Regions from separate parts of the Homo sapiens genome. Here all the other regions are linked to region 3. The links come from fine-mapping of genetic effects on gene expression. A gene starts in region 3. Each other region holds a variant in brackets. All regions are shown on one strand. Distances are between the middles of the regions.

What was found. PIP is the estimated chance that this variant, and not a neighbour inherited with it, causes the effect.
Region 1: its variant is the best candidate, but not a certain one, in a credible set for the expression of RCBTB2 in nasal epithelium (TOPMed, PIP 0.65).
Region 2: its variant is the best candidate, but not a certain one, in a credible set for the expression of RCBTB2 in tibial artery (GTEx, PIP 0.51).

Annotation. Positions count from the first base shown.
Region 1 is chr13:48,237,363-48,248,558 of GRCh38, forward strand. All of the region lies in intron 1 of ITM2B (integral membrane protein 2B), which reads left to right. Among named protein-coding and RNA genes, the nearest start is that of ITM2B, 9.8 kb to the left of the region's middle. RefSeq lists an enhancer at 3,939-4,439. The variant G/T (reference allele first, on the strand shown) is at 5,920.
Region 2 is chr13:48,351,302-48,362,497 of GRCh38, forward strand. RB1 (RB transcriptional corepressor 1) reads left to right here. Exons shown (of 27, transcript NM_000321.3): 7 at 8,716-8,826. Among named protein-coding and RNA genes, the nearest start is that of RB1, 53 kb to the left of the region's middle. The variant T/C (reference allele first, on the strand shown) is at 6,542.
Region 3 is chr13:48,526,538-48,537,733 of GRCh38, forward strand. It overlaps RCBTB2 (RCC1 and BTB domain containing protein 2), which reads right to left and starts at 6,543. Exons shown (of 15, transcript NM_001268.4): 1 at 6,491-6,543. It overlaps LOC124903174 (a long non-coding RNA gene), which reads left to right and starts at 1,167. Exons shown (of 2, transcript XR_007063795.1): 1 at 1,167-5,512. RefSeq lists enhancers at 4,859-5,028, 5,919-6,158 and silencers at 6,199-6,598, 6,709-6,758.

The DNA of each region.
Region 1 (11,196 bases), 290 kb before region 3:
GAATTGCGTCTGTGCATCCCAAATGCCTTGGCAGGACCTCCTGTGTACACATCCCTGACAGGACACTGCTGTAGCATATTGGGTGTGCAAGGTTGCATATTGCACAGGATTGTAGTCTTCCCAACTAGACAGAAATGAGTATAATATACTTGGCATAATAAGCCTGAGTGACCTCATGGAATTCAACTCTGACATATAAAAGGTTTATGTGACTGGAAGTATTTTTTAAGCAGAAATATCTCAAATACGTTTATGTTACAGGCCTATTTAAATTAATTTAGAATTTGACTTACAAGGTGTTTATTATGCATTTCCAAATCTTGACTTGTGGGTAAATGTACATAGAAACATGTACTAAGTAGTCATTGGGGGAGATTTTATTTCTCTTAGTTTTATCATACCATAACTTAAATGTCTGGCGTGTCTATTCAAAACCCACATTCTTTTTCCAAAAGGAAATACTACTTCCTGAATTCCTAGATTTAACTAAAGCTTCTTGTACTGCTTTGTATGTCAGTGTCAGTAAAGGAAGACTCAGAAAAAAAAATCTTTTTGGGTTACCAGTAAAATCATCCTCTTAAATTTTTTGGCAAACGTGGCATTTTATTAGAGCTTAAAGACTAAAGGAAAAGAAATTAAGGACTTTAGACCGTTACTGAAACCTGTTAAAGGATTTGACAATTCTGAATTTCTGAATGAGGTGATTTTTGCCTAAATGATATACAAAATATTAACACTGGAGCTGTGCTTCACAATGAAAGTCTTTTCCAAAGTAGACAGCTGAAAGTTGAAAATTGGAAATTATAACACTAAGGACATCATTTTTGAAAAATTTCCACTTAATTGTGATTATCCCTTTTAATTAGTACTTACAACACATATTTTTAATAGCTTTAAGGAGATCTACAATACAACCTCATTTTATAAGTGTTATCAACAATTGAATGAACAAGATTATTTTAAATTATTGTGCATTCTTTAAGCTCTTTTATTAGAGGAAAAAACTTTTTGCAGTATTTCTATAATTGTACTTGGGGAAAAATCAGGTAAGAATGAACGTAGACTTTTTATTCTTAAACAGAAAAGTTTGAATCTTGAGTTGTAGCGATGAGGAAATTACCCTTGTTTTTATGGTAGAGATATATTCTGATTTTTCACTTAATGTTTTATCTTTCAGTACTGATAAGTTACCAGCAATAATTTTATGATGTTGAACTAACATAAGTACGACAAAAGAGAAATAAAATTTTCACAGCTTATATATAATACCACTTCTGAGTTAAATATCCTGGACGTTTATTTGGGAAAGTGATACTAAGTATGGTGGTGGATATTTTGTACTTTGAAATTTTGAAATATTTGCATAAACCGTTTTTGGCATAGTTGAATTTCATACTTTAAAAAACAAGTTTGGTGGATTTTTGTGTTTATTTGAATGATTAACTTTAAGGCTCAAATTATTATTTTTTTTTAGTGAAAGCAAGTTTATTAAGAAAGTAAAGGAGTAAAAGAATGGTACTGCATAGGCAGAGCAGTCAAGATGCAAATTATTTTTAAAAGTTGTTTGTTTTCAGAATGAGTTAAGGATAAAGCTTAAGTCTTAACTATTTTCTCTGCTTATATATGATTATAATGTTTTAAATTATTTTATATAAAAATTTTAAAAGATGCATTGTTAATTAAATCACTTGAATCTCTGCAGTATCCAAAAGCAGACCCATTTTTATGCTGGGGAAAATGATTTTTGAGAGCTAGTCTATTTAGCTTTGCATTATCAGTTTTCAGTTTTTCATTTTATATAACTTTATCCAATTCATTTTTTCCTCCCTTTAATACTGGGACATAAAATTTCCTGTCTATCAGTTTTACCTAGGGCCGTGCTAGGCATCTTAAGCAGAGAAGGCAAATTCAGTGTCTCCTGGGCTGAAGCAGATGAATTGTTGAAGCTGGACTTTTTGCATATGAAACAAGTAAGAATATTCTTGGTTTTCCTGCCAGGCGCAAGCCACCGCCTGTAATCCCAGCACTTTGGGATACTGAGGCTGGTGGATCACCTGAGGTCAGGAGTTCGAGATAAGCCTGGCCAACATAGCAAAATTCTGTCTCTACTAAAACAAAAATTAGCCAGGCGTGGTGGCATGCGCCTGTGATTCCAGCTTTTTGGGAGGCTGAAACAGGAGAATCGCTTGAATCTGGGAGATGGAGGCTGCAGTGAGCTGAGATTGCGCCATTGCATTCCAGCCTGGGTGACACAGCAAGACTCTGTCTCAAAAAACAAAAGAATATTCTTGGTTTTCATTTTTAAAACATGAGTCCAGTGTTGCTGGATCCTCCAATTTTCCAAGGCAAGCTAAAAATCAGTACTATTTTAATTTATACAACAATTTTAGCCCAAAACACTGAAGGCATGGGCCACTATTTTATAATCTCCTTTAAAGTGGAACGCAGGACTGGCAAATTATAGCCTATATCTTCAAATACTGCCTGCCTGCTGTTTTTCTGTAGCCCATGGGGTAAGAATGATTTTTATATTTTTTAATGGTTGGGAAAAATATCAAAGGAATGATATTTCTCCTTTTTGCCCAGTACCCTCACTGAATTGTTGGGGAGGGGCTGCTGCTATTCAGGAAGCAGCAGCACTAGCAGAATTCAGGTTATACAGTCATTCTTCAAAAGATTTAAATTTTGTCTCTATCACTTACTTTGATACCTTGGGTAAGTTACTTCAGTTCTCTGTGTCTCAGTTTTTTCATCAGCAAAATAGGGAAAATAATAATCTGTAACAATAATAGCACAATGCCTGGAACAGAGTTAAAAATTAGTAGATTTCAGCTACTGTTATTTTTATTTATTTTTTTGTTGAGAAACAGTCTTGCCCTGTCACCCAGGCAGGAATGCAATGGTGTGATCTTGGCTCACTGCAGCCTCTGCCTCCCGGGTTCAAGTGATTCTCCTGCCTCAGCTTCCCAAGTAGCTGGGATTACAGGCACCTGCCACTATGCCTGGCTAATTTTTTGTATTTTTAATAGAGACGGGGTTTCACCATGTTGGCCCGGTTGGTCTCGAACTCCTGACCTCTTGATCAACTACTATTATTAAAGTCCCAGTTTTCTCTCCTCATCATTCTTGTTTTGGAATATTACTTCTTATATTACTGTTACTGCTTATCCCTGCCTCACATGTCAGTAACAATATTGTTGGTACTTTTTTCACAGCAAGGCATTCTGGTAAAGATTGATTCCTGCAACATAAAAACCCTTAGGATTCAGTAGCTGTACCGATTTCATTTAAAAATGTTATTTATTCATTACATAATAGGTGTTAATAGAATTTGAGTTTTACCAAAGTAATACTAAATTTTAATATGCAAATATATAGTCCTGCCCTATGTCAGAGGAACATACTTTAAAAAAATTGTAGCATCATTGTATACAGTAAAATGCATAGATCATGAGTGTACAGTTAGATAATTTTAAGTCTGTATACCTGGGCTCTAACTCCCAATCAAGCTGAACATTGTTATCAACTCAGAAAGTTATCTTGTGTCCTTTTACAATTTGTTCTCCTTAGAGGTAACCACTATTCTAATTTTTCTCCCCATAGATTAATTCAAAGCAATCATATTCACTTATTAGCTTCTTATGGTCTTTTATTACCATGGTGACCACTAGACCCTCTTCTGCCTTTGTGCAATTTAGAAAAAGATCCCCTCTCTGGTGGTTTGGAGAATAGAGCATCAGTTGGTTTCTAGACCTACTGATTCCCTTGGCCTGGCATCCTTGTACTGGAAACAACCTGCCCAACCATACATGGCGATCTTAACTCCATGTTTCTCACTTTTTGCCCCAGTAGGGCGTGGTGCGGCGGGCAGCAGAGTCTTGCTCTGTCACCCAGGCTCGAGTGCAGTGGCATGATCTCGGCTCACTGCAACTTCCGCCTCCCAGGTTCAAGTGATTCTCCTGCCTCAGTCTCCCGAGTAGCTGGGATTACAGGTGCCCACCACCACTCCCAGCTAATTTTTGTATTTTTAGTAAAGACGGGGTTTCACCATGTTGACCAGGCTGGTCTGGAACTCCTGACCTCAAGTGGTCCACCCACCTCGGCCTCTCAAAGTGCTGGGATTACAGGCTGAGCCATAGCACCTGGCCCTCCATGTTTCTCTTTTAACTCCCTATTTCTCTAAATCAGTGGTTGTTAAACATTTTGCTCTGAGAACTCCTTTATAGTCTTAAAAATTGTTCAGGATCCCAAAGAGCTTTTGCTTTATGTAGGTTATATATATTTCCAAATAACCAAAAAGATTTAAGAAGACTAACAGTAACATTGTTTTACATTCGGCAGTGCCCTTTATTGAATAGCTTAATAGAAGATAGCCGGATTTTCCTATCAAATTCTTCATTCAGTCTGTTGTGATATGGTGCTTAGCTTCTGGAAAATTGCACTGTACAATTTTTATTGTATATAAACATAGCGAGAGAATGAAAGTGAAAATGACAGTTTTATTATTTAAACTAACACAGTCTTAGTTTTATTATGAAAAAAGTTTGACCTTGTGGACCCCCTGAACGGGTGTGTTCCTGGACCACATTTGCAGAACATCTATTCTAAATATTTGCTTATACTGCTGTTTCATGGTTTGTTTTCATTTGTTTTATTTTTTGCAGTTTTAGATAATACCTATTGATAATAGCTACATGGAAGGTGAATATTTAGCTTTTTCTGAATATTTACACACTGCACACATGATCTCTTCTCCTGTTCTAGCAATTTCTGGTTAAATTGATATTTAGTGTTTTTTATTATAATTAACATAAACATTAGTTACATTTGAGTATTGTAGTATACTTTTATTTTACTTCCATTCTTGTATAACAACTTTTTATTTTCCCTGAATTTGATCATGCTTCTTGGGGCAGGAGAGAGGGTTCCTTAATTTTCTACATACTTACTGCTCATTCATTCCTCAGACTCTGACAGCAGTATAATTGTCTTTCTGTGTCTTCAAACTCACCAGGTAACTTACCAAGTTTCTTTCTTTCTTTCTTTCTTTTTTTTTTGATGATTTCTTGCCCATCATTCATTAGTTTTCTATTCCAGACTGGTTGCACTCATACAAATGTCCTGAGAGTCATAATCATCTTGGAAGAATTGCCTTTGTCTTTATCACATGCTAGATCTACAGTTTCATAAATCTGAAGAAAAAGATAAATTTTTAAAAAATCTTACGTGTCTCAGAATCGTTATTCCATCCTCATATTTGATAATTTATCTGGGTGTAAAATTCTAGGTTAGCATTCATTTTTCTCTCAGCATTTTGATGGCATTGCTCCATTATCTTCTAATGTGATGCCATTCTGATTCCTTGTTTGTACATGACTTTTTTTCCCCCTTTGGTTGTCTACAGGCTGGTGATTTTCTCCTTATATCTTTTTTTTCTTTTTTCTTTTATGCTTTCAGCTTTCAACATTTTTATTGACATGACTTGTCTGCTGTCATTCATTTTCATTCTTTGTGGCTTAAGGTTTATTTGTTTTATCCCTTTACTGTCGCTTTATTGAGCTTTCAGGAGGAAGTAAACAAACATTTCACTGGAAATCAATATTAGAACTTCAACTTAGCTATCTTGATAGCTTTTTAAAGATTTGTTAGAATATTTCCTTTTACATTAAAAATTGACTTAATGATAATTAATAATGGATAATAATGGAAACCATCTGAATTACCATTAGCATTAATTTAAGATCAGACAGGATGGTCTAGAAAGATTGATGAGGCATCCTCTGATCGTCCTCTTCAAAGTTCCAAGATTGTCTCCTTCATGAGGAATTTTAGAGGCAACTCATTACCAACTTTGTAGTTTTGCTTTGTGGCATTATTACTCCAACTAACTTAAAAAAGTTTCATTTTTGTAATTAATAT[G/T]TTGCCTTTTTCATTTATGTTGAAATGCTTATGTGCTGGTGTGCCTTAGTTATTTTCCTTTATTGTTTTAAGTTCACATGTATGTGATTTTAATACTTTTTGCTACCATCCTTTGTAATTTGTTGAACAACAGAGAAAAGCCCTATTAATTTTGACAACATATTAAAAGTAATATTACTGCCTTTGTAATAGTTCACACATGTAGGGCTTATTAGTGTGGGTCAATTTAAGTAAACCTTTTACAACAGTAGAAATTCATGCTGTGGGCCGGGCATGGTGGCTCACGTCTATAATTCCAGCACTTTGGGAGGCTGAGGCAGGAGAATTGCTTAAGAACAGCCTGGGCAACATAGTGAGACCTCCACCTCCACAAAAAAATTTAAAAATTAGCCATGTGTGGTGGTGCACATCTGTAGTCCCAGCTACTTGGGAGGCTGAGGTAGGAGGATCACTTGAGCCCAGGAGGTTGAGGCTGCAGTGAGCCGTGATTGCACTATTACACTCTAGCTGGGGTGACAGAGCAAGACCCTGTCTCAAAAAAAAATTAATTAATTAATTAAAAAGTATATATATTTAATAAAAAAAATCAGGCTATGTGGTTTCTGGTTAGGAGTATTATCCAAGTGTGACATGGTGTCTGTCACTTCATTTATTACCAGAGTTAATTTGCCTAAGCTGTTTGAGTCAGTTTCCTTAAGCAGCACATAGAGTCAAGATAATATTCAGACTTTATTAGCTCTGTGATATTACATAAATAATTTTACTTCTCTGGGCCTCATATTTATCTGTAAATGATGTATTGGATTAAACTACCTTCATGGTACTTCCATAGGGGATCTATTCCTGAGAACTGTATTGATCATATATTCAGAAGCACCTACTGGATAGCCAGGTACTATACCTGGAATTTAAAAATTGCTAAACACCCCAGCTTTCAAGAAACATTGTGTAGCTAGGGAAGACCAACCAGTTATGAAAACCAAATTAGTCACAACCTATTTAAATGCCTATATTTATTCTTAGAAGAAAATCACACCGCTGGATCCAAGAGCCAGGAGAGTGGTGGAGTAAGGGAGCAACATTCAATATTACCACTGAGTTTTTACTGCACATGCCTTCAGTGCTAGGCAGTAGGGCTCATAGGATCAAAGCACTTCTCACATGTAGAGAGACAAGTATTCCTGATCTTTAGAACTATTTTTTCTAGTAGTCATCTTGTTTAACATTTAGAATTCCAAACTTGGACAGAAATTTTCTCTTAACTATCCACATTTAAATTATGTTATACTTTCAGATGAATATACTTGGAATTTTCTTACCAAAAGTTCTGCATTTTAAATGAAATTACCCATATTTGAATATGAATGTATAATTATCTTGTTGAAAGACATTAAAAGCCAGCATTTATATAAAAGTGAGTCTAGAACAGGTTTGTTCTTTTTTTTCTTTAATCTTGACACTGAATTTTATAATGAATTATATAAAATTAGAGCATTCGAATTGTGCTTAAAATTTTTAGGGAAACTGTTGATACTGGTAACAATGTGGAGTTTCATTCAGCCAGTGGTAGAGAAAATCTGTCTTCACCAATTTATCCCGGTAAAGGATATTATTAACAATAAATAACATTTGTATATAATGCTGTTGTTTATGAACATTTACCTGTTTGTGCTAATCTAGGCTTTTTGCTATCCCAGTGCCTTTTACTCACCAATATGAATTTGAAATTCTGCTAAAATTTCACTTTATAAAACGGATACAAGGCCGGGTGCAGTGGCTCATGCCTGTAATCCCAGCACTTTGGGAGGCTGAGGCGGGCGGATCACTTGAGGTCAGGAGTTCGAGACCAGCCTGGCCAACATGGTGAGATCCCGTCTCTACTGAAAATACAACAGTTAGCTGGGCCTGGTGGCATGTGCCTGTAATCCCAGCTACTCGGAAGGCTGAGGCAGGAAAATTGCTTGAACCTGGGAGGCAGAGGTTGCAGTGAGCTGAGATGGCACCACTGTACTCCAGCCTGGGTGACAGTGAGACTCCGTCTCAAAAAAAAAAAAAATGGTTACAGTTCTGTTCAGCATAGATTGAATAAACACAGTAGAGAAATGATGGTCATTTTTTAAACTATGTAGAAAAAAGAATAAGAGATTTTAAACTTATTATTCATATAAATATTCTACTTTGCACTAATCTGCTTGTCTCTGATACAAAAGTGATTAAGTTATGATCCAGTTCTAAATGCATTGCGTTGATAATCTGCCTGTTGTTTTTTTTTTCAAGTTCCAACCTATTTTTATTTAACCTAAAACTGTGCTAGTTTTATGTGATGCTAATAATTTGGTTCAAGTTTCATAGATTTCTGACAGTAGTTACATTATTATGCAGTGGCTTTAAATTTTAATTTTTTTTCATTCTATATTACTGCTTTTATATTGCAGGATTTTTTAACAAAAAAGTATGTTAATGAGGAATCTGTTTTATAGACCTTGTAGTTTAAGTTCTTTTTTTTTTTTTTCGAGACAGAGTCTTTCTCTGTCGCCCAGGCTGGAGTGCAGTGGCATGCAGTCTCTGCTCACTGCAAGCTCTGTCTCCTGGGTTCACGCCATTCTCCTGCCTCAGCCTCCCGAGTAGCTGGGACTACAGGCGCCTGCCACCACCCCTGGCTAATTTTTTGTATTTTTAGTAGAGATGGGTTTTCACCGTGTTAGCCAGGATGGTCTCAATCTCCTGACCTCATGATCCACCCGCTTCAGCCTCCCAAAGTGTTGGGATTACAGGCGTGAGCCACTGCACCCAGCCTAAGTTCTCCTTTTTAAAGCCTTCCCCTGTTCGAATTCCAGTACAGAATAATTCCATAACTTCATTAATCATAACATGTTGGTATAATTCCCAATTTTGACTGTAAATACTAATTTAACTTAACTAAATGAAATCTAATATTGACAGAAGGTCAGAGGCCTTTGTGAAATAGAGTACTCACAAATATAGAGAGCAGCTTTCTGTGTAATGCCAGACACTAGGAAAACTGCTTCCTTTTTATGTGTCAAACATTTATCACGTGGACTTCCTCACTACAGTCAAGACAGCAGCAATCTCATTTCAAAAGGCAAATTAAAAAGCAAAATTCAGATACTGATTTAAGTGAATAAGAAAAAATGCAAACAAATGTTTGATGTCCTCATGGATTGTTAACTTCTCAGCCAGAGATTTTGTGTCTTACATATACCAGATATATTTGATAATCAGTGCAGTTAATAATTAGCGGATCACCACATCATGTCCTTTTGATGCTTTCATACTGAGGAAAGAAACCTAATGTAGAAACCAAATGAATATGTCCCAGTGTACAAAACCCAGAACTCAAAACCCTTTATATGGAGAAGTAGTTTAGATTGATTATTTAATATAAATAGGATCCCAGAAGGAAGTATACCCAGTCATAGCTGGAAGTGAAGATCAGAATTCAAAACCTATATTTGGTCTCCAAGTAGAGAGAAAAAAAAGATAAGAGAGAAGTTGAAAATACTAGAACATTGATGGGAAATTTAGTTTTTGGTTTTGTTTTGTTTGAGATGGAGTCTCGCTCTGTCACCAGGCTGGAGTGCAGTGGCATCATCTCAGCTCACTGCAACCTCCGCCTCCTGGGTTCAAGCGATTCTCGTGCCTCAGCCTCCCGAGTAGCTGGGATTACAGGCACAAGCCACCACACCCAGCTAATTTGTGTATTTTTATTAGAGACGGGTTTCACCATGTTGGCCAGGATGGTCTCGATCTCCTGACCTTGTGATCCACCTGCCTCAGTCTCCCAAAGTGCTGGGATTACAGGCATGAGCCACTGCGCTTGGCCGGGAAATCCTAGTTTTTAAAAGTGCGAATCACTAAATTTTTTTAATGTCCCAGCTGTTTTGCTGTTTTGGAAAGCATTATACCAGCCAAACAACACATCTGTGGGCAGCTGTCCTATGCACCCCCATATTTACCTATGTTACCCAGCATGTTTCTGAGTAACTAAATCTATTTCTGAAGGTTCAGTATATTTTGAGTTGAATAAATGGTATTGGTTCTTTTTTTATGTATATTTTTTGATAATATAATTTTTAACACTAAGAGTTGTTTTCCTCATTAGTATCCTGATTCCTAAAGCACTGTTGTTGAATTTGATACAGAAATGTAAAATATTGTATCTGAGCACTTTGAAAAATGTCTCTTAAAAGCTTCAGTCATCCTGTAAAAAAATGTTCAAATAGAGGTGCCTAAGAATATAAAGTGATTTGTTAGTTTGAGAACAGAATTGAAATTATACGAAAAAATATACATTTTATTTAAGTTTATAATTGAAGCACATTTACTAAAGCCTCTTAGGGAACTGATTGAGGTGACCTAATTCTTAACTAATTGAAGTACCAGAAAAGAATTTGTCCTTCATTTTGTTTAAGATATAACTTCTTAAGTAATTTTATTTTATTATCCAATGCTGAGATTTATTTGAACTAGAAATTAGTACTGTGCCAGAGTGAGAGTGCTCCTGAAAGCCAGGTCTTTCTATATCTACTGTTGCAAGGTGGTTATAGGCCAGCGTGTGCTGCAGTGTCTTCTTTTATAAACTGGGCTAAAAAACTTGAGGTTTAGGAAGATTAATTAGATGATAATTGTACAGCACCTGTGGGAGTTCTGTTACCTTTTAAGCGCGATGCAAGGTGCACCAGTTTTATTGCAGTAGAAGGGAGGAAACGTCTCGGTGACTTGTTTTAAATTAGGCCAGGTAAAGTTATATACCCCAGTGAAGAAGCTCTTACTTGTTAGTGGTTTTTTTCTTTTTAAAATTATGAAATATTTCAGGCACACAAAATACAGAGAACCTGAAGTATATTTTATATGTTTTGAAAGTCTTAAATATCACATACTTACATAATACTTAAATATGTGGTGTTATATGTTGTGCAACGTGCCTTTTTTGGGGGGGTCAGCAATTATGTTTCTTAGGCTTATCTAAAAATCAGCAGTGCTAGTACTTTTTTTTTTTAATTTTTATTTTTTAAAAGAGATAGGATCTTGCTATGTTGCCCAGGCTGGTCTGGAACTCCTGGGCTTGAGCAGTCCTCCTGCCTCTGCCTCCCAAAGTGCTGAGAGTATAGGCACGAGCCACTGGGCCTGGTCACTAGTTGAATCTTTTTAGCAGTATTATATGAATCTATAATAATTTATTTCGAATTTTTTTTTTGTTGCTGACAATGTAGTGTATATTCTTGGACATATTTCCTTACATATTCAAAAGTTTAT
Region 2 (11,196 bases), 180 kb before region 3:
TGTGGTTTTGATTTGCATTTCTCTAATGATCAGTGATATGGAGCTTTTTTTTCATATGCTTATTGGCTGCATGTATGTCTTCTTTTGAAAAGTGTCTGTTCATGTGCCTTGCCCACTTTTTAGTGGGGTTGGTTTTTTTTCTCTTGCAAATTTGTCTAAATTCCTTATAAATGCTGGATATTAAACCTTTGTCAGATGCATAGTTTGCAAAATTTTTCCCCATTCTGTAGGTTGTTCATTTACTCTGTTGATTGTTTCTTTTGCTGTGCAGAAGCTCTTGAGTTTAATTCAATCCCACTTGTCAATTTTTGATTTTGTTGTGATTGCTTTTGGTGTCTTTATCATGAAGACTTTGCCTGTTCCTATGTCTAGGATCTATTTTTTTTTTTTGAGACAGAGTCTCACTCTGTCACCCAGGCTGGAGTGCAGTGGCACAATCTCGGCTCACTGCAACCTCTGCCTCCCGGGTTTAAGTGATTATCTTGCCTCAGCCTCCTGAGTAACTGGGACTACAGGTGTGCACCACCATGCCCGGCTAATTTTTGTATTTTTACTAGAGATGGGGTTTTACTATGTTGGCCAGGCTGGTCTTGAACTCCCTACCTCAGGTGATCCATGCACCTCAGCCTCCCAAAGTGCTGGGATTACAGGAATGAGCCACCACACCTGGCCTGGCCATCTTCAATCCATCTTGAGTTGATTTTTGTATATGGTGTAAGGAATGGGTCCAGCTTCAATCTTCTGCATATGGCTAGCCACTTATCCTAGCACCAGTTAATGAAATGGGAGTCTTTTCCCCATTGCTTGCTTTTGTCAGCTTTGTCAAAAAGATCAGCTGGTCCTAGGTGTGCAACCTTATTTCTGGGTGCTCTATTCTGTTCCATTGGTTTACATTATTCTGAAAAAAATGTGCCTGTTTTTGTACCAGTAACATGCTGTTTTGGTTACTGTAGCCCTGTAGTATAGTCTGAAGTTGGATAATGTGATGCCTCCAGCTTTGTTCTTTTTGCTTAGGATTGCCTTGGCTATTCAGGCTCTTTTTTGGTTCCAGTTGAATTTTAAAATAGTTTTTTTTTTTTTATTTCTGTGAAGAATGTCATTGGTAGTTTGATAGGAATAGCCTTGAATCTGTAATTTTTTTGGGGCAGTATGGCCATTTTAATGATATTTATTCTTCCTATCCATGAGCATGGGATGTTTTTCCATGTGTTTGTGTCATCTCTGATTGCTTTGAGCAGTGTTTTGAAATTCTTGTTGTAGAGAGCTTTCACCTCCCTGGTTAGTTGTATTCCTATGTATTCTTTTTGTGGCAATTTTTAATGGGATTGCCTTTCTGATTTGGCTCTCAGCTTGGCTCTTGTTGGTGTGTAGAACTACTAGTGATTTTTATACATTGATTTTGTATCCTGAAACTTTGCTGAAGTTGTTGATCAGCTGAAGGAGCTTTTTGGCTCTAAGACTACAGGGTTTTCTAGATATAGCATCATGTCATCTGCCACAGAGATAGTTTGACTCCCTCTCTTCCTATTTGGATGCCCTTCATTTCTTTCTCTCACCTGATTCCTCTGATTAGGACTTCCAATACTTTGTTGAATAGGAGTGGTGAAAAAGGGCATCCTTGTCTTGTGCCAGTTTTCAAAGGGAATGCTTCAAGCTTCTGCACATTCAGTATGATGTTGGCTGTGGGTTAGTTATAGGTGAAAAAAAGAGGAAAAACTCAAATAAACAATCTAACATTGTATCTTAAAGAAGTACAAAAATAAGAGCAAATCAAACCCAAAATTAGTAGAAGAAAAGAAAGATCGAGCAGAAATAAATGAAATTGCAATGAAAAAATTGCAAAAGATCAATGAAACAAAGTGTTTTTTTAAAAAGTTAAACAAAATTGACAAGCCTTTAGCTAGATTAACTAAGGAAAAAAGAGAGAAGATACAAATAAGATCAGAAATGAAAAAGGAGACATTACAGCTGATACTGCAGAAACTAAAAGTATCATTAGTGGCTTCTATAAGCAACTATATGCCAATAAACTGGAAAATATAGAAGAAATGGGCAAATTCCTAGACATGTACAACTTACCAAGATTGAACCAGGAAGAAATCCAAAACCTGAACAGACCAATAACAAGTAATGAGATTGAAGCCATAATAAAGTCTCCTAGTAAAGAAAAGCCTGGGACCTGATGGCTTCACTGCTGAATTGTACCAAACATTTAAAGAAGAACTAATACCAATCCTACTTACAGTATTCTGGAAAATAGACTAGGAAGAAATACTTCTAAACTCATTCTACAAGGCCTGTATTACCCTGATACCAAAACCAGATAAAGACCCATTAAAAAAAGAAAACTATAGGCCAGTATTTCTGAGGAATATTGATACAGAAATCTTCAACAAAACACTAGCAAACTGAATTCAATAATACATTAGATAGATCATTCATTATGTCGCAGTGGGATTTATCCCTGCAATGCAAGGATGGTTCAACATAAACAAATCAATGTGGTATGTCATATCAACAGAATGAAGGACAAAAATCATATGATCATTTAAATTGATGCTGAAAAAGCATTTGATAAAATTCAGCATCCTTCATGCCCAAAACCCTAAAAAACCTGAGGATAGAAGGAACATACCTTAACGTAATAAAAGCCATATATAACAGACCCACAGCTAGTATAATACTTAATGGGGAAAAATTGAAAGCCTTTCCTCTAAGATCTAGAACATGATGAGGATGTCCATTGTCATCACTGTTATTCAGCATAGTACTGGAAGTCCTAGATAGAGTAGTCAGACAAAAGATATAAAGGGAATCCAGATTGGAAAGAAAGAAGTCAAGTTATCCTTGTTTGCAGCTGATACAATCTTATATTTGGAAGAACCTAAAGACTCCACAAGAAAACTATTAGAACTAATAAACATGTTCAGTAAAGTTGAAGGATAGAAAATCAACATACAAAAATCAGTAATGTTTCTGTATGCCAACAGTGAATAATGTGAAAAAGAAATTTAAAAAGTAGTCCTGTTTACAATAGCCACACATAAAATAAAATGCCTAGGAATTAACCACAGAAGTGAAAGATCTCTATGATGAAAACCATAGAATACTGATGAAAGAAATTGAAGAGCACACCAAAAAAATGGAAAAAAATTTTATGTTGTTCATGGATTGGAAGAATTAATATTGTTAAAATGTCCATACTACCCAAAGCAATCTATAGATTCAATGCAATTCCTATCAAAATACCAATGACATTCTTCACAGAAATAGAAAAAACAGTCCTCAAATTTATATGGAACTACAAAAGACCCAGAATAGCGAAAACTATCCTAAGCAGAAAGACGACGTTGCTTGACTTCAAATTATACTACAGAGCTATAGTAACCAAAACAGCATGGTACTGGCATAAAAGCAGATACATAGACCAGTGGAACAGAACAGAGAGCCCAGAAACAAATCCACATGCCTACAGTGAACTCATTTTTGACAGTGGCCAAGAACATATGCTGGGGAAAAGACAGTCTCTTCAATAAATGGTGCTGGGAAAACTGGATATCCATATGCAGAAGAATGAAACTAGACCCCTATCTGTCACCATATACAAAAATCAAATCAAAATGATTAAGGACTTAAATCTAAGACCTTAAACTATGAAACTGCTATAAGAAAACATTGGGGAAAATCTCCAGGACATCAGTCTGGGCAAAAATTTCTTGAGCAATACCTCACAAACACAGTCAACCAAAGCAAAAATGGATAAACGAGATCATATCAAGTTAAAAAGCTTCTACACAGCAAAGGATACAATGAATGAAGTGAAGAGACAACCCACAGAATGGAAAAAATATTTGCAAACTACCCCTCTGACAAGCAATTAATAACCAGAATATATAAGGAACCCAAACAACTCTATGGGAAAAAATCTAATAATCTGACCAAAAAATTGGCAAAAGAGTTGAATACACATTTCTCAAAAGAAGACATACAAATGACAAACAGGCATATGAAAAGGTGCTCAACATCAGTGATCATCAGAGAAATGCAAATCAAAACTACAATGAGGTATTTATCTCACTGCAGTTAAAATGGCTGATATTCAAAAGACAGGCAATAACAAATGCTGGCTAGGATGTGGAGAAAAGAGAACCCCCGTACACTGTTGGTGGGAATGTAAATTAGTACAACTACTATGGAGAACAGTTTGGAGGTTTCTCAAAAAAATTAAAAATTGAGCTACCATATTATCCAACAATCCCACTGCCAGGTATATACCCAACGAAAGGAAGTCAGTATATCAAAGAGGTATCTGCACTCCTATGTTTGTTGCAGCACTGTTTACAATAGCTAAGATTTGAAAGCAACCTAAGTGTCCATCAACAGATGAATGGATAAAGAAAATATGGTACATATACACAATGGAGTACTATTCAGCCATAAAAAAGAACAAGGTCTAGTCATTTGCGACAACATAGATGGACCTGGAGATCATTATGTTAAATGAAATAAGCCAGGTACAGAAAGACAAACATCACATACTCTCATTTATTTGTGAGATCTAAAAATCAAATCTGAACTCATGGACCTAGAGAGTAGAAGGATGGTTACCAGAGGCTGGGAAGGGTGGTGGAGGTTTGGGAGAGGTGAGGATGGTTAATGGGTCCACAAACATAGAAAAAATGAATAAGACTTTATAGCACAACAGGGTGACTTTAGTCAATAATACCTTAATTGTACATTTTAAAATAACTTAAAGAGTGTAATTGGATTGTTTGTAACTCAAAGGATAAATGCTTGAGGAGATGGATACCCCATTCTGCATAATGTGCTTATTTCACAGTGCATGCCTGTATCAAAACATCTCACATACCCCGTAAATATATGTACTATGTACCCACAAAAATTAAAATTTAAAAAATTATGTAATTGTCATTCCAGATATCTTCATATATACATTTTGATTAAAAAGATGGGTAGTTGAGTGCATTCACGAATATAATTTTCTAAAACTAGGTTCATATTACAGTGCTACCTTTAAAATATAAAAATTAATTTCACTGAAATTTTATAGAAGAGAGAAATGGAAGGAATTGCTTAAATTTAGATAAGTATTTTGTCACTTTAAGTGATATTATTTCTAAAATTATTTCTCTAAGATTATGAAAAAATGTGAAAAAATTAAGAGGTTACAATCTTTATTTAAGTTTGTGTTTTTATTTAAAGCAATATACTTTAATCTGGTTTGAAGAAGGTTACTATCTTCACTCTTCCTGGTGCCTCCCCCTCTCCATTTTCAGATTAGTCCATTTTATTGTTATGACATTATCAAGTATTATAACATTTAAATTCTATTTTGTCACTATAATTATTGCATTTGGTTAGTCTCAGTTCTGTATTTAAATGGATTCTAAGGTTATCATAACTCCTATATCATAGTTTCTCCATTTCTCAGTTCTTTATTTTTATTCATCTCTTAGCTGGCTGTATTTTACAATCAACAAGTTTTTAAAAATATGCTTTTTGGTTCCATGTTCTTTATGTTTGACATGTTTAGGAATCATGTCTATAGCTTTTATACTTGAAGGACAGCTTTGTCATGTATTCTATTCTTGAGTCATATTTTGTTTCCCTCAGGACAATATTTTCTGGCATTGAACATTGCTGTTGAGAAAGCTGAGACTAGCGTAATTCCGCTCCTCATTTACTTCCTGAAGAATTTTTTTTTTAATTTGAGGTTTAATACCTTAAACAGGATAACATTTCTTGATTTTGTTATTCTGTATTAGCTTTTTTTTTTTGAACACCGTATCCCTTTTTAAACTGAAGGTTCTGCTGTTCATTTTAGAAAATCTTAACATACTCTATTTAAAAATATTCTATTCAGCTAGGTTGTTCTATACCATTGTATTTTGGGAACATTTTCTTATGTTGGATTGCTTTTATTCTCCCTATTTATTGTCTTCTCTCATATTATTCTGAATTTTTAAATCTTTTTCTTACATATTGGCTGTTTTTATCTCAAGCATTTTTTCCATTTTGAGCTAAACTATTTTTGTAATGGTGTTATTTGGTCCTCATCTTTTTTCTTAGCTTGTCTAGTTCCTTCCTTTTATATAATTTGTTCATTAATTTCCTTTTTATGATACATTTTTATTGAATTGGATTTATAATAGACGAATTATTCAATAATATGTATTTGGATCACTAAACAAATATATTGAGAATAGCAAATGGATTTTAACCCTCCTGCTAACCCAGATCAATTGCTAGTGGCTTCCCGGCCCATTGTGTTAAGAAGGACTCTAGATTAGCATCAGGTCTCTACAGGGAGGGGTACACTTAGTGATGTGATGGCTGCCAAGTAAAAGCTATGAGGTGGTGATGGTGATGCTACCCTCTTATCTCAGAGGCACGTTTACATTTCATATAGTACATTACAGGTGACTAAAGGTCATGGTTGTGCATCAGAGAGGGTAAGATGATGATCAGGAGAAGCTTCAATATTACCATTTATTTATTGATTCAACAGTTAGTTATTTAT[T/C]AGAATTTACAATGTCTCAAGCATGATATTACGTGCTAGGTTAAAGTGGTGGAAGATGTATATGTTCCCTGCTCAGCTAGAACTTACAGTCAAGTAAGGGAGATAGACATTAAATGAACAATCACAGAAATACTTAACTACATTTGCGATAAGGAATGTAAAGGGAAAGTGTAATCCCCCAATGGGTTCTTCCTGCTGGCTGCACAGACAAAATCAATCCACCAAGATTGTGGCATTGCAGTAGAGATAGTTTAATTGACCACTAGGCTGACCCATGTGGGAGAACTGGAGTTATCACTCAAATCAGCCTCAGCTGGTTAAGTTCTTAGTGCAAGCACTCATAGGGCATTTTCTTCTTTTAGATTATCTTTCAGATTGGGTTCTCTGTCTGATTTTTTTCCCCTTCTTATGTTGTGATTCTTTTTTGATTTTCTATGTTTACATAATCACTGTGCTTTTCCCCCTCGTATTGCTGGGACTGTATATGTGTAACCCTGATTTGATGTTCTGTTTTCTCTGATTTAATGTGAGTGAATATCCCTTCACTCTGCACTTAATCTGTGACTTGTTTATGTTCCCCAAAGAGCTATGGTATGGGAGCAGGCATTTTTATTATATCTGCTTTTAGTCAGGAGGTAAGGGAGAAAGTAGATAATTCAACTGTAATGATACAAGCCGTTGTTCTGAGTTTTTGTTAGAATGAACTTTATAACAGAACACTTCTAGTGGCAGTTTTATCTTTTTTCTATAGCAGGATTGTTTTGGGATTCAAATTGTCCCCAGTTCAACACAGTATGCAGAGTCTCTGTGTTGTCAGAAAAATAAGCTATAGTTGTTTACTTCCTCCATTTTACTCTTCTCTTATCAGCAGTTTCTCCCTCCAAGTCAGAGAGGCAAAAGATGAGGATACCGTTTGAGTTAGTCTCGCTCAGTCAGTCTCTCATTTGATATTGGTACCAGCACTTTAATACCTAATAAAATGAAAGCAAAAGAATGTACTTGAGAGAGATTCTTTCATCTGACTTCACCGTTTTTACCTAGAAATCCTTGATATCGTTCTTTACCACTATGGTATTTTAAAATAACTTATTTGTGAATATATTGCAGACATATTTTTTGCACCATACCATTGTATCTAGAAAACCTATAAAGATGCAACGTTATCTGTTTTCTCACAAAGTTTCTGCACATCCAGTGTTTGCTGAGATTATTACTGGTTTAGCAGTCAGATACTCAGAAAATAGAAAGTGAATCAAATTGAACTTCTCTTTTAAAAATAATGTATGACATGGAGCCATAAGCAAATTTGTAATAGCTGTGTTTTATCATGATTTGTATATTTTATGTAGCTACACTATTTGTTTTCTTAGGTATCTGTTATATGCATTTATTTTCTCACAGCCATCTAGTTGTATATATATTCTAATAACTTTAAAGATTTTATGGTGAACAATTATTTTATAGATGACTTTAAATTTATATACTAATTTTGTTATCTCTTAATGGTTTTGGTTATTGTAAGATTTTAGAGGGGTTGAAATTAAAAATATATAAGGTTTAGATATAAATAATTGGAATAAAATCATAATTTTATAAATAAAATAATTATTTTAAATTTTTAGATAATGAGAATTAATTGAATCATTGGAATTAGAATAAATTCTAATAAACTTAGTAATTTTATATAATAAATATACTTATAAAAGTGGAATTAAAAATTTGAATTCTAATTATTATAATAAAATATTATACAAATATAAATAAAATATTTATAAAATTAGAATTAAAGATTAGCATTTATCATACTTCAAAATCTTTCTCTGGAGTAATACATTCTATAGTTCTTAAAATTAGAAATAAATTTAAAAAGCAAAATTTATAGTGATTTTAGACATAAAGAATTAATTATAACAGAAATACTTAAATGTAAAATTCTCAGAGTAGACTTAACACTTGATTTATAATTCCATAACTTTACATATTTCTATTTTACATATTTTATACCTTTTAAAACAGATTTTTTTTTTTTTTACAAAAAAAAGAAAGAAAATCTTTACCATGCTGATAGTGATTGTTGAATGAATAAATTTATGGATATACTCTACCCTGCGATTTTCTCTCATACAAAGATCTGAATCTCTAACTTTCTTTAAAAATGTACATTTTTTTTTCAGGGGAAGTATTACAAATGGAAGATGATCTGGTGATTTCATTTCAGTTAATGCTATGTGTCCTTGACTATTTTATTAAACTCTCACCTCCCATGTTGCTCAAAGAACCATATAGTAAGTATTTAATTTATGCCCCTTTTACTTTCTCATTCAGCAGTTGCTTATTGAATGTCTAGTGGGTACCAAACATGGTTCTAAGGCTGACAGGATGATAAAAAATAAATCAGACATGGACTTTGCCCATAAGTAGTGTAAGTTATAGAAGGAAAGATAAGACATGGAAACAAATGATTAGAGTATATGGTAGAAAGTGGTTTGGGTCAAAATACAACAAATGGAGGTTTGGGAGACAAGAAAGTTTTTCCAGCTGTGGAAGACCAAAGAATACCATATAAAAGAAGTAGTATTTGAAATTAACATGGAAGAGTGGTTAGGATTGGGGAAAGGCATTCTCAGTAAAGTGTTGGGGGAGGGCATTCCCAGTGAAGAAAAGCAAGAAACAAGAAAAAGATATGAATGAAATTGCATGGGGAAGAGTGGCCTATTCTAAGGGAACAGCTTAACTAAGTTTTTATTACTATTGGATGTTGTAATAACTATGTATTTTTTTGTATATAAGCTATAACTCATACTATTTCAGTGGGTGATGAGTGATGAGATGGGAAGTATATTTAAATAAAAATAACTTGCTAATATAATTAGATAGCATTAAGGAAGTATGAGTAAGGTATATTCCTTTTAGCCTAGAATTGCTTCCTTTCATGGCTTCAAGAGTAGGATTTCAAAGTCACTTATTATATTATTATATACAGAAAAATGTAAACTTACTTAAGGTCAGACTAATTCCTTGCTTCTGAAATGATGAAAGTATTAATGCTAAAAATAATAGATAACATGGAAGTTTCAAAGTGTTGTTGAAATGGATGGAAGGATGAAGGCTCATTAAACTTTGTGAACAAGAATTTAGTGGAAAAATTAAGTATGGAGCAGAATTTTGAAGATGTGTTGAACATGGTTTGGCAGAGAAGGCAGAAACCTTCATTTAGCAGAAACCACATGCAAAGAAAGAAATAAAAAAAATTCTATATAGAAAACAAATATACTTCAAATTTTCTCCCAAATTTTATAAATTTCCTTTATATACCCTTTCCCCACTTTTTTCAATGTTATAACTTTAATAAGTTGATGTTGCAAGTTACTTTAGGTTGACAATCTTTGTTCTTTTGGATAATTCAAATGTACATGTGAATTCTCTAAGTGCTCTGTTAAAGAGCAATCAGCATGGGGTATTATTGAACTGACTGAATATGGTAACTCTTAGTTAATTTTTGTTGTAGAGAATTTCAAATGAATACAAAAATAGTAGTATAATAAGCCTCCATGTACTTATCATGTAACTTCAACAGATAATTTACAGTTAATCTGTAGCCCCATTGCCTGCTCAGTTCCCCCAGCTGTATTATTTTGAAGCACATCTTTGCATACCATTTCATCCTTATACATCTCAGTATATATCTCTAAAAAATACTTTTTAAAAAGCATAATTACAGTGCTCTTTGTTATCACACCTACAAATCAATAAATAGTGACTCCTTAATATTACTGAATATCTAGAAAGTGCTCAGATTTTCTTGTAAAAATAATTAAAAAATTTTTTTACAGTTTGAATGAGAATCTAAATAAGATTTATACTTTGTGTTTGGTTGACATGTTTTAAAAACTCTTTTAAAAGTTTCTCTTCCATCCTTTCTTTTTTTCCTTGTAATTTATTTTTTAAATAATCAGATTGTCTTGAGTTTTCCACAGTGTGGTTTTTGCTGATCATATTCTGTGGTATAGTTTAACATGTTCTTCTGTCCTCTCAATTTCTTGTAAGTTGTTGATTGGATCTAGAGGCAATACATACTTTTTATACTTAATCATCTGTAATTTTTTTTTTTTTTTTTTGAGGCAGAGTCTCACTCACTCTGTCGCCCAGGCCTGGAGTTCAGTGGCGCGATCTCAGCTCACTGCAAACTCTGCCTCCCGGGTTCAAGCAATTCTCCTGCTTCAGCCTCCCGAGTAGCTGGGACTATGGGCATGCACCACCACACCTGGCTAATTTTTGTATTTTTAGTAGAGACGGGGTTTCACCGTGTTGGCCAGGCTGGTCTTGAACTCCTGACCTCATGATCCACCTGCCTTGGCCTCCCAAAGTGCTAGGATTACAGGCGTGAGCCACCACACCCAGCCATCTGTAATATTTTTAATAGCTGAACCTGTATTTAGTTTGGATTGGGAATGCTGAAAATAATCCAGGAGATTTTTTTTTTAAATCACAGTTTATTATCATATTATTATATTTACTATAATATATTTTATACCTATCTTTTAAAGACATCATAATTTACTAAAACTTAAAATATTGTTTTTATGCTATGTCTAGAAATTGAATTCAGAAATATTTGCTAATTATTTTTAAGACTCTAGGACAGAAAACTTTTT
Region 3 (11,196 bases):
AAAAAATAAATAATTTTTTTAATGAGCTATGATCGCACCACTGCACATTAGCCTAAGCAACAGAGCAAGACTCTGTCTCTAAGAAAATAAAAATAGCCTGGGCGCGGTGGCTCATGCCTGTAATCTCAACATTTTGGGAGGCAGAGATGGGAGGATTAATTGAGGTCAGAAGTTTGGAGACCAGCCTGGCCAACATGGTGAAACCCCATCCCTACTAAAAATACAAAAATTAGCCAGGCGTAAGAGTGTGTACCTGTAGTCCCAGCTACTTGGGAGGCTGAGGCAAGAGAATCACTTGAACTTGGGAGGCAGAGGTTACAGTGATCCAAGATCACACCACTGCACTCCAGCCTGGGTGACAGAGTGAGACTCCATCTCAAAAAATAATAATAATAAATAGATTTTTTTTAAATAGGAGGATTAAATAACATATCCAATGAGTAGCATTTATACTATTGTACCTGTAAGAAAAATCCAAAATAGTTAAAAAAATGTTTAATATCAGTGTATTAAAATGGCAAAAATGTGCTTTCTACTTATGGTCTAAATCTGCTTACAAATGTCCCCCCTTTTCTGCATAGGAGGGCAATGTTTCTTGTAGAGCCAAGGCAGAAGCTGGCAACAGTATTGGGAAGATTTTCTTCATAGTGACAGTGTTACAGCATAAGATCATCTCATATCATCTTACTATAGGATGACAGTAATATTATCTTACTATCTTACTATGTGTTACTTTATTAGTTTTTCCCTTATATGTTTGTTTTGGGATATATGACTTGGCTCATATATATATATATATGATATATATATATATGATATATATTTATATATGATATATATATATGATATATATTTATATTAAAAGGTGCTTTGTTCTTTGCAAAACAGTCTCCTATGTTATTTCCTCATTTTATTAAAATGTAACCTAAAACTGTTTTTACAGAATCTTATTATACTAATGTTTGCCTTGCAATATAAATAGAAAATGGAATGATAAGTAACCTCTCCACGCAGAAGTTCCTGCCACTGATCTCTGTCTTTAAAGGTTCCAAATGGGACACTCGGTGGCCAGTAGTTCAAGTCTGTACAAAAGTAATGTTTCAAAGCCAAATATATATCAAGTAAGGTAATCTGTCACATGACATTTCCTATTTCAGCTGTTTTCCTAATTGTACGGTTCACTAATTTATTTTTAAAGTATCCCTGTTTGGGGCAGATAACTCCTTATTTCTATATATTCTATGTTGAGAGTTTTCTCTACACTTTTAAAAACTACACAGTTGAAGACTACTGAACAAGGGGACACTCTTTTGATAATGTGATAAACACATTCATTCTTAATCCTCACATAAAGTCAAATAATTCATTTGCCTGTACAAAAGATATAACAGGCAGTCTGTACATATTATTTGTGGCAAAGTAATCAGTATTAATCAGTGTATCTGCTACACAATGTGTTATATTACTCGGTAATACCTCTGACCTAAAAAATGAGTTAAGCTGATTATGGGACATAGGTTCATTTGCCTAATTCATTCAACAAATATTAATTCAGTGCCTGCAGTAGGCACTGAATTGAAAGCAAATACATGAGAGCAAACAGAATAACGTAGAGCAAAACAATATCCAGCTCTCTTAGGGACTTCTGTCCACATTACCCCAACCCAATGGTAGGTTTTAAATGCTGACATTTTGCAGTTAATCAGGGGCTTCTAAATGCTAATAATTCTTCTTTAGAAGTGATTACAGAAGAAGGGGTGAAAAAAAATAGCAATTCCTGCAGAGAAGTCCCAGTATTACATATTTTAAAATTCAACTTAATGAGATCAACTCTAAAGCTATGCTTGAGAAACACACTGATATTTTTAGAATTCTCTCAATATAGAACTCTATGCTTAAAATTATCCCATCTGGGTGGGTAACACATTTGATGATGCTTTTATAATCAAAAGAAACAGGAAATTAAATAATATCGATATCTTTTAGGGTACCAGCATGCAGTTTACAGCATCGGTGTGTTAATGAGCTGCAGACCACATAAATTTCAATAGGATAATGATGGTTCCCAAATATATCCTTAGGTGAGTCATTAGATAGTATCTTTAATAGCTTTTTAAGGGTCATCTTCAAGTTATAAATAATATAAATACGTATACAATAAAACATGATCCCAGTTTTCACTTGCAAAAAGGGATAGTGTTAGCTGTAATATTAGCTCCACTTAAATGAGATGTCTAAAATCAATGACAAGTAACAGTAAAATACCTACATGGCTAATTAAAATGGAACAATTATAAACAGGACGGACAAAACTAAAACACTAAAAGCATAACTAAAACTAGCACACAACCTCAAAGGAAATGGTATTGTCATATGTTCATGAAAAACAGAAAACTGTTGTGTAGAATACAGAAACCCTGTTGCTATTTTAATTATTTGTTTTTTTAAAAAGTTTTCCAAATTTCAACAAGAGTGATGAGTCAGATCTTCAGTACAAAGCAAAGCGGTATTTAATTGAAAAGATTACTGAGCTTGACAACTTCAGTCTTTTCAGCCACACACGGCAAAAGTGTCATTTTCAAATATGAAAAATAACCAACATAAATGATAAAAATATTTTTAAGTTGTTATATGCACTAATGTGAGTTGAGATTTGAGATCTCATTTGTAAATCCATTTTAAATCTCGGTCCTTATAGATTTAATCCAATTTTTCAAAAAAAAATCTTAACACGCCTGCTACAGAGATCCTAATTGTTAAAGATCTTTGACCCACAGCATATATATTCCTTCAACATGGCAGGCCCTCTTGGCCTTGGCTCATTTCCACTTGAGATTGGTTTTGTTCAGTATTATATACATACATACACGCAGCATAATACAGGACATATTATAATGCAGTCAAAATTTATGTTTTATTCACATACTATCTCCTACTGGTACTTGTTAGCTCAAAACATCTTCCATAGGGAGATATACATAAGAGATATTAGCTCAGGCCAATTAGCAAGGCTGAAGACGTAAAAGAAACCCACTCTAATGTCAAATTAATGCTGAAAAATTATTATGGTTTAAGTTTCCTGGAAACTTTCACGTTGTTAGAATGTGATCACCATGTGAACTAGATACATGTTCCTTCCAGACAATGAAAGCTGGAAGTATCATCTCAGCCTTCCATTGATGGACATTATCAATATCCCTTACCAGGAGGCAAGCCATCCACTCCTTTGAAGTAAAATCTCCAAGTAGAACTCTCTTTTAGTCTTTAACAAGAGTCCTTAATGTCACTCTGTAACCCCAATAATTCCTGGTCTCCAATCTACCTTTTCCTGGACAATTTTAATCTGTAGCAATATTTATTTATTTATTTATGAGATGGGGTCTTACACTATTGCCCAGACTGGAGTGCAATGGTGTGATCATGACTCACTGCAGCCTCAACCTTCCCGGCTCCAGTGATCCTCACACTACAGCCTCCCAAGTATCTGAAACTACAGGTGTGTGCCACCATGCCTGGCTCATTTTTTTTTTGTTCGTTTTTCTGTAGAGACAGAGTTTTGCCATGTTGTCCCGGCTGGTCTCTAACTCCTGGGCTCAAGAACATTTGACTGCCTTGGTCTCCCCCAAAGCGCTGGGATTACAGGTGAGCCACCGCGCCCGGCCTGATTTGTAGTAATTTAAATCCAAGTAAACCTCAACAGTAGCAGTATCTTGGGGCATTTAAATTTTACTTTAACCAACTGATAAAACCAAACTTGAATATGACAATTTCATAGGGCATAAGCAAATTCCATGGACTCCTTACATTTATGGTCCTAGATTAATAATATTTTGGTGTTTGAACAGAGTATTTGTAATCTATGTAAGTAAAGGACATGAGGGGAAACACACTTTACTTTCTAAAATTATTCCTCTCCATCACCCTCTTTCTCTAAGCCTTCTTTAATTATGGATTGAAATTTAGTTAGGTCTATCTGGTTCATTCAGATACCTGTAAGAGAGGTCATTTATAGCATAACATCACACCAGGTGATTTAAGCTCCTCTCCTACACAGTTTCAAATACAGAAAAGCAATGACCATTCTTAGAAAAGATCTTCACTAGTCATCCACAGTCAGAGGGACATTTAGAAGCAATTGCAAAAACTGTGGAGACAACGTACAGTTTTTCTCAGCACAATTTACATAGATGTCTGGCTAGCTCTTCCTTGTAAAAGTCCAGTGTCTTCATTTGATGTGCTAAGTTAAACTGTAAACTCCTGAATAATTTGAACTCTTATTTAGGAAAAAAATGTTTTTTCACCTATATACTATAAAAAATGGTGACGTTTATCACAAGGGTCATGCCGTGGGCTCCCATAAAAGACATTGTAGAGCACGATAAAGAACGTTTTCTCCCAGAAGAACATTTATTTCTAAAACCCAGTTCCCCATGTTAAACATCACCTTTGGTTTATCCTTCAGACTCACCGTACCCATGATGTTTAAAATTGCAACCCACACCTGCACTCCCAATTCCCTTTCTCTGTTCTCCTTTTTCATTTTTTCATAGCATTTGTACTTTTCTAACCTAATATACAAATATGTTTTTTATCATTCTTTGCTAGAATGTAAGCTCCAGAGGGAAGGGATCTTTGTCTCTTTTGTTCATTGATGCATCCCAAGCATCAAGGACAGGACGTGATAGAAAATCAATTTTTGTTGAATAAATGAATGAATCTAGGTTGAGTTCAGTAAAAAAATATCTCTGGAGTAAGTTAGTTTCCAATTTTATTTCTACAATTAACAAATACCTTCTGAGCTTCAATTATGGTGGAGATAGATTGATCATACCCTTACAAATATATAATATCAGATGGTGATTAAGTGCTACAAAGCCGAACCAGCAGTACAAGAGTTTGGAGAGCCAGACATTTTAGGTGAGGTAGTCACCTCTCTGAAATGATGGCAATTGTTTCAAGACTTAAATAAAGTTCTGTGCCATGCAGATTTGCGAAGAGTGGGAAAGTGAGCATTGAGCATACTGGAAATACCAAACGCAGACGCCCTGGGATGAGGGTCCGCTTGGCGAGCCCAGCAAGAGCAATAAGGCCTGAGTGGTGGAAGTGGGGTATGCAAGAACGTATCATTCTTGTTGCTTTTACCTGCTGCTTAATAACACGCATGTACTGTCTAGCAGGAAATAAAGAGATTACGTTTCACCTAGAATACTCATTCTCTGAGCCTAAGTGGCTCTTCTATTCCAGCCCCCAAATATCTGTATCAGCACATCATATAAGATTACAAAGCACAGAGTAATGACATTGTTAGAAACTCTTCACAGTAGCCCCAGGAGTCACGAAACTGACTTAACTAAGACCCACTGTCTAGTAAGGTGTAAAACCCAGCAGGAACGCAATACTAGGAAGGTGCAAAGCCAGGAGGCTCAATAAACGTTAAACAGTGTCTGGGGGAAAGAGCAACGATCCAGAGCACTGTTTGTGAACTCAACCACTTTTATTCAGCTCTGACAAGGTAAGTCGCCAAGCGCGGTACAAAGTAGCTCCATGAAATGCGTTTTGTTATAGTCCTGGTCTCGAACTGTTGCAACATTTTATGTAATTTTTGCAAAGAACAAAAGCAAAAAGTTCATTCTAAATTAGCCTTCCAACTCAGTTCTTTCTCCGCCAAGACGGAGCACTTGGAAAGTTTTCAATGTCTGAAAACCTCTATTTCCAGGGCTGAGCAGAGCACTATGTTGCGGCTTAAGACGCTCGGCGATTTCTTCCCATCCCTCCGCAGTTCCAAAACGGCTTCGCCTAACAAAGTCAAACTTTTCGCGCTATTCCTGGACATCAGGACCAAATGTCGAAAGCATATACTGCCACTGAGTTAGTGAGCCGGGCCGGTGCCCGGGACCTGGGGTACTAGATTTATGGGACGGGAGCCTAGGGGTCGAGGCCACAGAAATGAAAACATCGGCAACATATGCAGTGCAGCGAGTGGGTTAGGAGGGAGAAACTTCAGGCAGGACGCTCCCTCGGGACCTGTGACGCCCCCCCAGCCACACCAGACGTGGGAGCTTAGGATGAGAGCGGCCTCCGAGCAGATGATCACCCTGGAACGACGCCAAACGCGACCCCTACCAGAGGACTCGCGCATGCGCAGCGCAGCCTGGGCCGGCGGCCTGGGCAGGATGTAGTCGCGAGCAGCGCACCGGGCCCACGCCAGCGGAATTGCGCATGCGCAGGGCCGCCTCTGCCTGCGGCCTGGGCTGGGTGTAGCCCCGGAACCTAGCTCTTAACTCCCGCCAGCAGTTTTACGCATGCGCGACGACGCCTAGGCCTGTGGCACGGTCGCGGCTCTAGTCCCCTGGGCCCCTCAGCTGTCTCTGGCGGGGAGGTCGGGCCGCAGGGGCGGGGAGGGGTGGCCTGCCCCAGTGGTACCTGACAGCATCCCACGTCACGGCCGCGATCCCCCTCGGCCTCCCACACCACTCCTCCACCCTCTTACCTCCTCGCAGGCCGGAGCCTTGTCCGCTCCGCCTCCTGGGTAGCGGTTACTGCACGGTCAGGGGCCCGGCGCCGCGATGAGTTGGCGCCTCCCCCTGAAACGGCCCGGCCTCGGCGGGATGCGCTCGGGTGCCCGGCCGAGACGGAAACGAAGGGAGCGCAGACAAGAGGAGGGGGCTGGCGACGGCGTCTCGCCCCTCCTCTCCTCCCTAGGCTGCCCACCGCCGCCCCTCCCCTTTCTCGCAGACGCCCCCTCCCCTCGGAGTTGACCCCCGGGAGTCTCCCATTGGGGCCGCCTCCGCTTTTCCAGGGAGTTCCTCCGTGGGTCACCCCCACCTTCTCCAGGGTTATGTTCTCGCAAATTTTGGGAATTTGTGGATACCCGACCTAGAAGGATAAGGCGTGTATGATGCTGAGAGCAACCTTTTCCACAGCCCCTCTCCTCCAGCCTGCCCCAGCTTTTCTTCTATTGCTGGCCCCTCTATCTGGGGGCTCCGATCACTTCACGTTTTCACCCCATTGCTGTGGGGCGGAAGTCTTGTAGCCCCCTGTAGTACAAATGCTGAAATAATGAGGATGTGTGCTGGGGGGTTCAGGGGGATGACCTCAGTTACCTTGGGGCCAAGGGCTTCGAAAACAGCCACCTTCTCCCCTTATGATTATATTTTGCAGTAATTTATTATATTACACTGCACTTCTGTTGGCCTTTGTAGATTTAAGTAAAATGCACCACAACTTTGCAGTGTGCAATAATTTCTTCCACTGCACTACACTTAAATTGACCTGAGTGGGTTTTGGTTAAATGCTCAACAATTAAATGTTATTAGCTATTCCTGTGAAGTAAGCTACTTGCTTTTATACTGGCTGTTTCATGAGGACACTGGTTCCTCTACAGTGTAGAGCCAAAAGTAGTAAAGCCAAAGAGAAAAACTAACATTCCAAACCACAGTGACCGTGTCAGTCTGTTTCGTCTGGCTTTTGTCATTTCTTCGGAAAAACATCATTCTAAAATGTATAACTGCCTTTCTGCTACATAGGGCAGACATTTATCTCTATTCTCTGAGCATAGCCCACTGAGCCTCAGAAGGAGGCACGCAAAATGGTACACAGGTATTTCTTGTAGAGCTCTAAATGGAAGAAAAAGTAAGTATACATTAACAGGAAGTTGCAGCGATAGTGCAGAGAGGCATCGTGTGCCTGCCCCAAGTTTCTCCACTGGTTACATCTTATCAATGAAAGAAATTTATGAGTTAAACAGGTTTGCTCTCAGAAAAAGCTCACTTCAGTGATGATAGCTGGCATTTTTTTTTTAAGCACCTATTGTGTGCCAAGAGGTTTATCTTATTTGGAGCTCACAATAATCCTGTAAGGCAAGGATTATCCTTACTTTACAGATAAGGCAACTCAGGCCCCAAGAGATTAAGTTTCTTTCATCAGCAACCATGGCAAGATCTGTTTGCCTTGCGCACTTGGTCTTTTACGCATTATGGACAGCTGAAGTTCATGCAGGCCTTACGGTGTGCTTCAGCTGAAGCCTGACAATTAGCTAACAATAAAAACATGTCTTAGTGTTTTGAAAACTGTGATATTATCTCAGAAGTTAAAACTTTAAAATATACCTATAAAAGAATGTGTTTCACTAAAGATTTTAATTTTATATGGGTCCAACAGTTTTTCCCAGGGCGGTCAAAATTAAAAGTAAGAAGTAAAAATGTCTCCATCACATATAAGTTTCCTTCAACACTTTTGGATAATTTGGTCTACTAAACTTCACTGTATTGCTGAATTCAGTAGACTAAAAATTTAGACTCTGAGAGAGTATAGGTTAGTATTTCAGGAGTTAAAGTTCCCATCACCACATCTCCCAAGTTTACCTACATCTGTACCTGTGCACTCTATTCCTTCCCATTACTGGGAATGAGCTGTGCATGCTCTTATTTAAGTTCAACTCTTCCACCTTTGTATTAGATCCTGTCTTCCTTACAGTCTCAAGGTTTTCACTCAGGTAGTTGTCACCTCTCAATCCTACATTATTAATTTTTGTATCATTAATTTTTGGATCATTCCCATAAGCATATTAACATTGCGCAACATTTGCCTATCTTTTAAAAAGTTCCTTGATTATATGTCCCCTATCAGCTACCAATGTGTTCTCTGGTCTCTTCCAAAATGTCTTAAAAGAGTCACTTATACTAACTGTATCCTCATCCCCTCCTCCTATTCATCCTCTTTTTTTTTTTTTTTTTTGAGATAGAATCTTGCTCTGTTGCCCAGGTTGGAGTGCAGTGGCGCAATCTCAGCTCACTGCAACCTCCACCTCCCGGGTTCAGGTGATTCTCATGCCTAAGCCTCCCAAGTAGTTGGAACGGCAGGTGTGTGCCACCATGCCCAGCTAATTTTTGAATTTTTAATAGAGATGGGGTTTCGCCATGTTGGCCAGAATGGTCTAGAGCTCCTGACCTCAGGTGATCTATCCACCTCAGCCTCCTAAAGTGCCGAGATTATAGATGTGAGCTATCATGCTTGGCCCTCCTATTCATTCTTGAATCTATTTCAGCCAGGCTTTTGCCCCTACCCCTCCATTGAAACTCCTCTTGGCAAAGTCACCAATGACCTCAGAATTGCTAAATCAGTGGTTACTTTTCCATTATCTCACCTGAACTATCAGCAGCATTAGAAGCATTTGCTTACAGCTGCCATCTTGAAGCATTCATCTTCTTCTGTTGGCCTTCAGGTGGCCCCTGTCTCTTGGTTCGTCCATCTCACTGGCAGCTCCATTGGCTCATCCACCACTTCTCCAGCCATTGGCATACCCAGAGTTTGGTTCTTGGACTTCTCTATCTTCTCGTTCCCTTAGTAATTTTATTTCAAGACATGGTTTTAGTCCTGCCACTTCTTATGTCCTAACAAGTTCATGACACTACTCTTGTGAAACTAGGAGCCCTTGTCCTTTTCCAGCCCACAATGGGGATCTAGCTGCAATAAAAGTCTTCCCTTTCTTCCCTTTTTAAACCCCCTAATTACTTCTGCTTTTGGGGTATCTTTAAGCCTCCTTTAGTTATCCAAAAGCAGAGGAATTCATCTTGCTTTTTTCTTTTCAGGTATCCAGGCACCAAGGCCCTAATCACAAGAAAAGGTGGATGGGGCCGTCTTTTGACTTTTTCTTGGAAATTCAGAAAGTCTAATTACGCTTCAGGGAAGAGGAAAATGTTCTTTTTTTCCTCTTTGCGTCTCCAGAACAAAAATTTAGCACCAGTAAATTTCTACATCAGTCTGCTTGTTACAGATTGAATGCATGAATGAATGACTGCAAGCAGCCTGCACTTTGGTGCCCTAAGTGCCATTGATTAGGTGAATGACCTTGGGTAGCACCTTAGTTTTCTAGAACTTAAATTCCTTCAGACTCCATTAAATTGGTGCACTGCCCAGCTCTGTGTTTTGTAGAGGTATCAGTCACACTGCACCTTTACTGATGCATGCTATTACCATGCTGTATAGAATTGTGCATGTCAGCATGGTATTATAATTGGTGTTAGAATATAAAAGTGATAAAGATGATAATAGGCACATATACACTTACTGTGGCAATAGTGAAAGAATGACAAAATACCAAGAGGTGATCAGAGAAGGCTTTCCAAAACAGATTACTTTAGCATTAAGTTTTCAGTGTGGGCTGGGTGCCATGGCTCATGCCTGTAATTCCAGCACTTTGGGAGGCGGAGATGGGCGGATCACTTGAGGTCAGGAGTTCTTGATCAGCGTGGCCAACATGGTGAAACCCCGTCTCTGCTAAAAATACAAAAATTAGCCAGGCATGGTGGTGGGTGCCTGTAATCCCAGCCACTTGGGAGGCTGAGTCAGTGTGAGTTAGCTAAGAGAACAAAGGTTAGGGATGGAAGTGTTAGGGAAGGGAAGTAGTCTAAGTAGAATAAGAAATATGATGTGTTTGAGAATTATAAATTGCTCAGTAAGGCTGAAACAAAGGCTATATGGAGGGAATAGGGCAATGGTAGGAAATTAAAGTAACCATTCATTCATGAATGGACACTAAGGATGATTCTTTATCTCAACAATTGTGAATAGTGCTGCAGTGAACATGGGAGCACAGATATCTCTTCAACATACTGATTCATTTTTGTTGGACATATACTCAGTAGTGAGATTGCTAAAAATAGTCCTATTTTTAATTTTTTGAGGACCTCTGTACTGGTTTTCGTAATGCCTGTACTAATTTACATTCCCATCAACAAAGGTTCCTTTTTCTCCACATCATTGCCAACACTTGTTATTTTTCATCTTTTTTATAATAGCCATCTTTACAGGTGTGGGGTGATATCTCATCGTGGTTTTAACTTGCATTTCCCTGATGATTAATGATGTTGAACTTTTTTTCATCTACTTGGCCATTTGTAGCTCTTCTTTGATAAATGTTTATTCAGGTCCTCTGCCCATTTTTAAATTGGGTTGTTTTATTGCTACTGAATTGTTTGAATTCCTTATATATTTTGGATATTAACGCCCTAACAGATGCATGGTTTGCATATATTTTCTCCAACTTGCTAGCTTTTCTCTTCACTCTGTTGATTGTTTTCTTTGCTGTACAGAAGATTTACAGTTTGATGTAATTCTGTTTGTCTATTTTTGCTTTAGTTGCCTGTGCTTTTGGGGTCATCTTCAAAAAAATCATTGCCCAGACCAATGTCATGG